2 linked regions of the Homo sapiens genome follow. The protein of the gene in region 1 interacts with the protein of each later gene in a pairwise test. Each region holds a gene or a part of one and is shown in the gene's direction. Other genes may lie near its edges.

Evidence for each region.
Region 2: the proteins of MS4A14 (region 1) and SEC22A interact in binary tests that used the Homo sapiens proteins (3 or more experiments, as listed by UniProt).

The regions. Positions count from the first base shown.
Region 1 is NC_000011.10:60,399,429-60,403,254, forward strand, and holds part of MS4A14 (membrane-spanning 4-domains subfamily A member 14), read left to right. Parts: intron 1-975; coding exon 976-1,026; intron 1,027-3,483; coding exon 3,484-3,633; intron 3,634-3,826. UniProt on the Homo sapiens protein: May be involved in signal transduction as a component of a multimeric receptor complex.
Region 2 is NC_000003.12:123,239,856-123,243,681, forward strand, and holds part of SEC22A (vesicle-trafficking protein SEC22a), read left to right. Parts: intron 1-3,826. UniProt on the Homo sapiens protein: May be involved in vesicle transport between the ER and the Golgi complex.

The DNA.
Region 1 (3,826 bases):
GGCTATAAAGGTAGGGTGTAACCAGGTCGTGCCAACCCCTATAGTCATGTTAAGAAAATGGAACTTCAATGTGAAAGCATGGGAAAGCCACTGAACGTTTTTAAAGAGGATAGTGACACTTGAAGACTTGTTGAAGTATCATTGTGTTTTTAGAGTGAGAAATTAATTCAATTATAACAGTAAACCTAGGAGAATCCAATGAGAGGAGGCTACAAACACACAGATGAGGAAAGAGTTTCCCGAACTAGCTTGGTGGCAATGGAGCTAGAGATGGAGAGCCTTGAGAGTGACTCGGAGGTAGAAGTGACAGGACTTGGCAATCCAATGTGGGGAGTGAAGCGGAGGGAGGTATCAAAGGTAACTTTCTGATCTCTGCAAGTCAGCTGCAGATCCTTGGACTCTAAGACCCAGATGTCCCCAAGGTCCAAGGCCAGTTCCCACAGAGAAGGTTCCCATCCCCAGAACATTAAAAAAGTAAGGGACTCCACATGGAGTGACAGAGTTCTCATTTTCCTGAGGTGGTACTAGGCTCTACGATCATGGGAAATGAGGGACTCTGATAACTACACTAGATATCAGTCCCCATATCAGCCTTTAGAGGGGTCTTCCTTGAGAAAGTCTCCCTTCACCTGCTCAGAACAGGCACAGCTCCTCCTCTTCTCTTCAAGGCCCAGAGCTCAGGAATCTCTTTTTGGAGCCCCAGCCGGATCAAACATCTGGTCCTCTGGATCTTAGAGGAGCCTGCCTGTCCCAGTTGGCCCTGGCAGAGAGCGCTTGTTCAGTGCTGAGCAAATCCAGCACAAAGTTTCTTCCTACCCTACCTACGCCTACCTTCCCTACTCCCTGATGCTCAGGTGGAAAAACGGGATGGTCTTGGAGATTCACAAACAGATATTTTGCAAATCCAAGGGAAATTATACTGCAAGGTGGTCAAACACATCACCTGTTAACTTTTGTCTCTTGTCTTCTTAACAGTTTATTCTTACAGGATACCTCACAGTAACCGATAAGAAATCAAAACTTCTGGTAAGCCACTTAAACTACATAAAATTTAAAATCTTCTATTTGTTTTATATCATCTTTATGTATGAAGCCTTTAGTAATAAAGTTACCTTTCAGGAAAATCTGTATGCATCAAAGTTGCAGTTCAGATCATTCCTATTTGCCAGTGCCACTGTTTGCCTGACAGACATTCTTACACTTGTTCCCATTTCCCTGGTCAAGTAAACTAAAAGAGTTGTTTATTGGAAACCATTCTGCATCCCTGTAATTCATTGTTTGTAATTAGGGGTAATTCCCTGCCCTGCACCCCCCAGGACCCAGAAATATTGGACAACATCTGAAGACATTTTTGGTCATTACAACTGGTGTTATTGGCAACAAGTGAGTAGAGGCCAGGGACATTTCTAAGCATCTAAAATGCACAAGGCAGCCTCCCCCCAACACAAAAATTATCCAACAAAAAATGTTTATAGTACCAAGGTTGAGAAACCTTGCTCTAACCAAAACCAATCCTAAGCTCTCACTAATTCTTCCTCCCAATCCTAGCCCTATCTCCAATACCAACCGAGGCTTTTCTTTAGATCCTGCCCAAGGTCTGGAAGAAAGAGTTTGGGCATCAATGCTGGATTGTTCTAGGATTGAACCAAGGCTATCACTCACTTCTGTGTTAACCTGAAGGGAAAAGTGCCTACTTCTAAGGGTTATTTTGAGAGTTTAATGAGACATTACTGATAAAAGGCAAGATGATGCTTAAATGTTCATACTCCTTTCTAACCACTCTGATCTTGTTTAAGGTCCTGGGGATGTGGGCCTCTCTGAAAGTCAGTTGAACTCTGTTCTTATGGTCCTCTGCCAGTTTCCTCTAGGGATAGTTACAAGGCATAGAGACATTCTGAGGGGAGGGCAGATAAATGTTTCCATCCCTGCTTATGGAAATACATGCAGACAATGCAGATGAAGCCCCAAATGCTGTTCTCCCTGTATTGACTTCCTTCCAGAGCTGAGAAATAAACTATGGGTAAGGAAAACCTACTCCTGACTCACTGAGAGCTATGCAGATGGAGGTGTGCAGGAATGATGGAGGCAGGATGCTGAACCAGGCATCAGAAGACCTGGCTTTTCATCACAGCCCTTCCACAAACCGTGAAAGTGATTGCTCACAGTCACTTACTTCCTTAATTCCATTTATCTGTAAAATGTGGATAACAACAAGTGTCCTTCCTACAGCACAAAAGTATAATGAGAATCAGAAGAGACTAGGCTGGGCATGTTCTTTGTAAAGCCCAATACACATGAGGGATTGATTATCTAGAGATCTTAGTCTATAAAATGTCCTATGGGAGCCAAAATAGAGCCTTGAGAAAACAAGGGGACTAAAGACCAAGAGAGAGATGGCCTATCTATATGTTCCTGTGCATTTTCTGCCAAAGTGCCTATTTGCAATAAAAACCTGGGATTGAGGTAAACATTAAGTCACAAGTACACTTCTGAGGTTTGCCACACCAAGCCACAAACTTCCAGAAAGGACTGGCTGTGTAAAGGCATCATTGTATTTTCCACCACGGTAGTCATAACACAATCAATAAAGGTACAGCAAATACCTGATGAATGGAAATGTGAAGCTTTTCTTTGTTTTTCCTTTAAAAGAGTGATATCAGTCCTGGGAGTGGGTAAGAAGGAAGAAATCAGATGACCCCCTTCCTGTAAAGGAACTCGGATATACCTACCCCACCCACCCACACCCCCCTCCAAAAAAATAAGAATGAATAAAGGGAATTGGGTGGGGCAGTGTGAAATATTTTTATTGCAACAATGAGTTCAAGAAAAAACACCTTTAAACTCCAGTCCAAATAGGTTAACATCTTTAAATGTTAACGATTCTGTTGATTATTGCTTGAATTCTCCCAGGGAATGACTGTAAACCACATGATTGCAGGATGTCACCTCTTTTGTTCATTTTTGTTTCTCCAGGGCCTAATGCAGTACTCACATGTATCTGGTGCACATTAAATATTTATGAAATAAATGAATAAATGGATACTACCCTAAAAGTTAGGTGACACATTCACATTTTTAAAGGCAGAAATTGAGATTCCAGGAGATTAGGTTACTTGCCTAAGGTCCTAGTGAAACTTGGACTTGAAATGAGGTTTCATTTCCAAGCAAAGATATTTGCTAACACATTGTACTGCTTCCAGATTATGAAAGATGGTGGTGATAAAATGAGATAAAATGGGATAAAATGAACATTTTCTTTAGCATTAGCCATAGAGCATCCTTAGCCCATTCTAAAACTTGGTTTGTCTTCTGACTTTAATGAGTTAGAATTTAGTTTATTAAGCCTTCCAATCATACTGACCTGATGGAACAACTCTTCCCTGAGAAGTATCTGGAAAGATAAAAGCACTAAAAATTTCTTACAAGATATTTTTGCTTTGGTTTCGATCTTATTTATTTTATCATTTTTAAACTATCTTTCAGGGTCAAGGTGTCACGGGCATGAATGTTATCAGCTCCTTGGTTGCGATAACTGGGATTACTTTCACCATTCTCAGCTACAGACATCAAGACAAGTACTGCCAGATGCCATCCTTTGAAGAAATATGTGTTTTCAGTAGAACTCTTTTCATTGTAAGTGGTCTTATTTTGCATGAAGAATCCCTAAAATCTTCTCTGAACTGTGTCCATGATGTAATGATTCACTGATTTTTATTTTATTAAATGAAGTTGTGTCAGCATTTGAACTGACGGTTGAGAAGGGTACCATGGGGTTACTGTTACAATGGTTAAGGAGCGATATTTTCTGGACTTGAATCCTGTTCAC
Region 2 (3,826 bases), on another chromosome or scaffold:
GCTTTTGCTGCCATTGCATGCAAGAACTTTTATTGTGGTTTTGGTGGTAAGGAATGGGTGAGGCAGGGTAAGGAGGTTTTAAGATTGGCTAGTTTGAATAATTTCAATGGACTCTGGGGCATAGGTTCTATCTCTGGTTGTCTGACATGTGGCCCTGGGATGATTGGGATAGGGAAATAATGGCCCTGGCTGTGAGAGCCTTGTAGAGGAGTTGGTTGGTAGTGTGAGTCTGGATTGATTGGAATGCGTATGAAAGGTGGACTCAGACAAGTTGTTTGCCATCACTAGGAATTAGCTATCCCTGGGAGAGGCAGTTCTTCCATGGTCAGCAAGGCCCAAGAGGTCAAAGCATCAAAAATACAGAATAAAAAGACATGATTACTAAACACCCTTATCACAATATAGGACATTTCCATCTCCCCCGAAAAGTTTCTTTGTGTCCCTTTTCAGTCAATTTCCACCATCCTCTAGACAACGACTGTTTTTATTTTTTTCCACTTGAACTTTGTTTTGTTCCAGAACTTTATATAAAAGAAGACTACATTGTGTGACTATTGTGTTCAGCTTCTTTTGCACAGCATGATGTCATACATACATGTTGCCTGTCTCAGTAATTTGTTCCTTTTTATTCCTGAGCGGTATTCCATTGTATGAATGTACCACAATTTGTTTATTTATTCTCTTGCTGATGGACGTAAACTTGTTTCAGTTTTTGTTATTGCACATAAAGCTACGATGAACATTCATCCTTTTGTTGACATATATTTTCATTTCCCTTGAGTAAATATTAGGAGTGGAATTGATAGGTCAAAAGGTTGCCTGTTTAAGAAACTGCCAGTTTTCTGAAGTAGTTGTAAGATTTTACTTTCCCAACAAGCAATTTGTGAGCATTTTGATTACTCAACATCTTCACCGACATTTAGTGTTGTTAGTCTTTTTACTTTTATGTTGTGCTTTAAAAAAAAAACTTCACAAAACCCTAAATTTAGGGTTTAAACTGATAGAAACACTTCTGTCAGTTTCTTTGACACTTGTATATTTTTCATCTATTTTATCATTTTCTAGAAAATTTGTCAGTTGCCTGAAAATGCTGCTCTGTTTTGGCTGGTGCCCACAAGCCAAATAGATTTACTAATCTCTCTTTCTTACACACACACACACACACACACACACACACACACACACACATCCCCTTCATAATCCAACAGGTATTTATCATTTTTTTTCTCTAAAGTATTATGCTAAATTTTGTGGAGGCATTTTTTAGAAATACAGTAAACACATTAACTGTACTCAGAATGAGAAAGGGAAATACAATCCAATAAGTAAAACACAAAGTAGAATGTGATACATGCTCCAAAAGAGGTAAGAAGGAAGACTCAGGTCTTGGAGCCTTGAAGGATATGCATGATTTTTACAGGTGGTGATGATAAAGAAGGGCCTCACTGATGAAAAGAATAGTGTGTTTTTGTGCCAGACTGTTAGTCTCATTCAGTCACACTTCAGTAATAAATTAGGCTCATTTAGATGGAACTGACTTGAAATTTCTCTCTTATCTTCCACAGTCTGTTTCCCTAGGCATTGTGGGCATCTTTGAGATTTCGAATGGTACCATCTCTTTGAATCGTCATAAGGACTATTCTGGGACTTTGCTTCATCAATTATTTTTCCTTTTTCTTGATTCTTCTATTTCATCTTCACTGAATTATTTCATTCCACCTATGTATGTATTCAAGTCTTCCTCCCTCCCTCCAACACTGTAAGAGAAAAAAGAATTATTTTCTCAATCCTATTATCTCTGTTAAGCTTTCATCCTGTTTTTCTCTCCTTTAACTTCAGTAGTATTCACTTAATGCTTCCACCTCTTAACATCGCCAGTTGTTCAACCTCTTGCAATCTGAATTTGATAAGGAAAATGTGGTTCATATACACAATGGAGTACTGTTCATCCATGAAAAAGATGAGATCCAGTCATTCGCAACAGCATGGAGGGAACTGGAGATCATTAAGTAAAATAAGCCAGGCACAGAAAGACAAACATTGCATGTTCTCACTTATTTGTGAGATCTAAAAAGCCCTCAACCACTTTTCTGGAAAAAAAAAAAAAAATTTTAAGGAGAATCCTAGCATCTCCTGTTCAATAAGTCTAATACTTTTTACTTTAAGGTCAGATTTTTTTTGGCCTATCTATAGGCACTGTTAGCCATATCTTTCTTCTTGATGGTCTCTCCTTCCTAGGTTTCACTTGATTCTCCTGCATCTGCCTTCCCTGACTCTTCTTCCATCCCTTACTGACAGTGTTTACCAAGGATTTCCCTTGGCCTGCTTCTTTCTTTGACGCTCATTTAAACCTTTCCCTTCAGTTGCAGACCTCGTCTGCTTCTCCCAGCTATTCCATTCTTCAGTTGCTTGTTAAACACGGCCCACCATCACCTCAAATATGATGTTAAAATGTCCCCATTTTTTATCAAACTTAAGTTTCTTCCTGTGGATCTGTTGCTCAGTACTCTCATCTTTCCGATCACCTAGAGGTAAAACCTCAACATTTCTTTGAATTTTTTTCCCCCTTTTGTTTGCCACATCTAATTAGTTGCCAAGTCTAATAATTTTAACCTCCATGACATCTTACTTCTTTTTCCCCATTTCTTTTTTTTTTTTAATTTTAGCTTTATTCTTTAATGAACTCCCAAGCACTCAGATTCCCATTTCTACTGTGACTATTCTGATTCAGGCCCTGATTTCAGTCAGTCTTTTGCAGTGACTCTCCCACAAACTTCCTAATGTAGAACTGTAGAAAGAGCATGGGCTCTGCAGTCAGATAGACCTAAGTGCTAATTGTGAAGATGGCCCTTCTGGCTGTCTGACTTATAGAAAATAATTTAATCTTAATTGACAGATGAGAAAGTTTAGGCACAGAAAAGTTAGTCATTCCAGTTCAGTCACAGAGAAGTTAGTCATTTCTACCTCATGAAGTATGCCATTCTGAAGGGTAAATGAGACAATGGGTGCTTAGTGAGAAGGTACTCAGAAAAATATTATTTCTCCCTCCCTTACTTTTGATCTCTTTACAACCCATTAATAGATTAATCTTCTTTAAGTATAACCTTCATCATATGAGAATCTTGTTCTTCAGTGGTTCCCCATTGTCTAATTTTCCATAATTCTTAGCCTAGAATTGTATACTATCAATTTGTGTCCACCTCCCTTTCTGACCTTATTTCTCCCCACTTGTCACAAACATCGCTTTGAGCCAAACCAAACCACTAGCAATGCCCTATAGCAGAATGGCTGAGAACATGAATTCCAGAATCATCTAAATCCCAGTTCACGTACTTACTTTGTGCCCATGAGCAAATTATTTAATGTCCCTAAACCTTTCCTATTCTGGGAGGGGTGGGGAGGGGGCGGGGTGGGGCAGAAAACCAGGATAATTATAGTGCCTACTGCATTGGGTTGTTGGAAGGATACAGTGAGACCAAGTATATAAAGCACTTGGTGCCTGGCGTGTTGAGAGCAGTCACTGTTGGTAGAAGTAGTAGTTGTTGATGCTGTTGTTACTCGTTTCTCCCATTTCCATCTCCATCACATTCACATTCTTTTCTCTGCGTGGAATGCATTTCTTCCCCTTTGTACCTGACTACATTTTATCTATCTTCAAAGCTCTTTCCTGGTTCTAGACCACCCTCCCCCTACTTTATCTTTCCACTTCATCATTCCTTGCCTCTTTTAGCTTAGAATGCTTATTACTTTCATATACTTATCTGTTTTATCTCTTTTATAAAAGACTAGAAGTGCCTTGAGGGCAGAATATGTAATTCAATTTTTG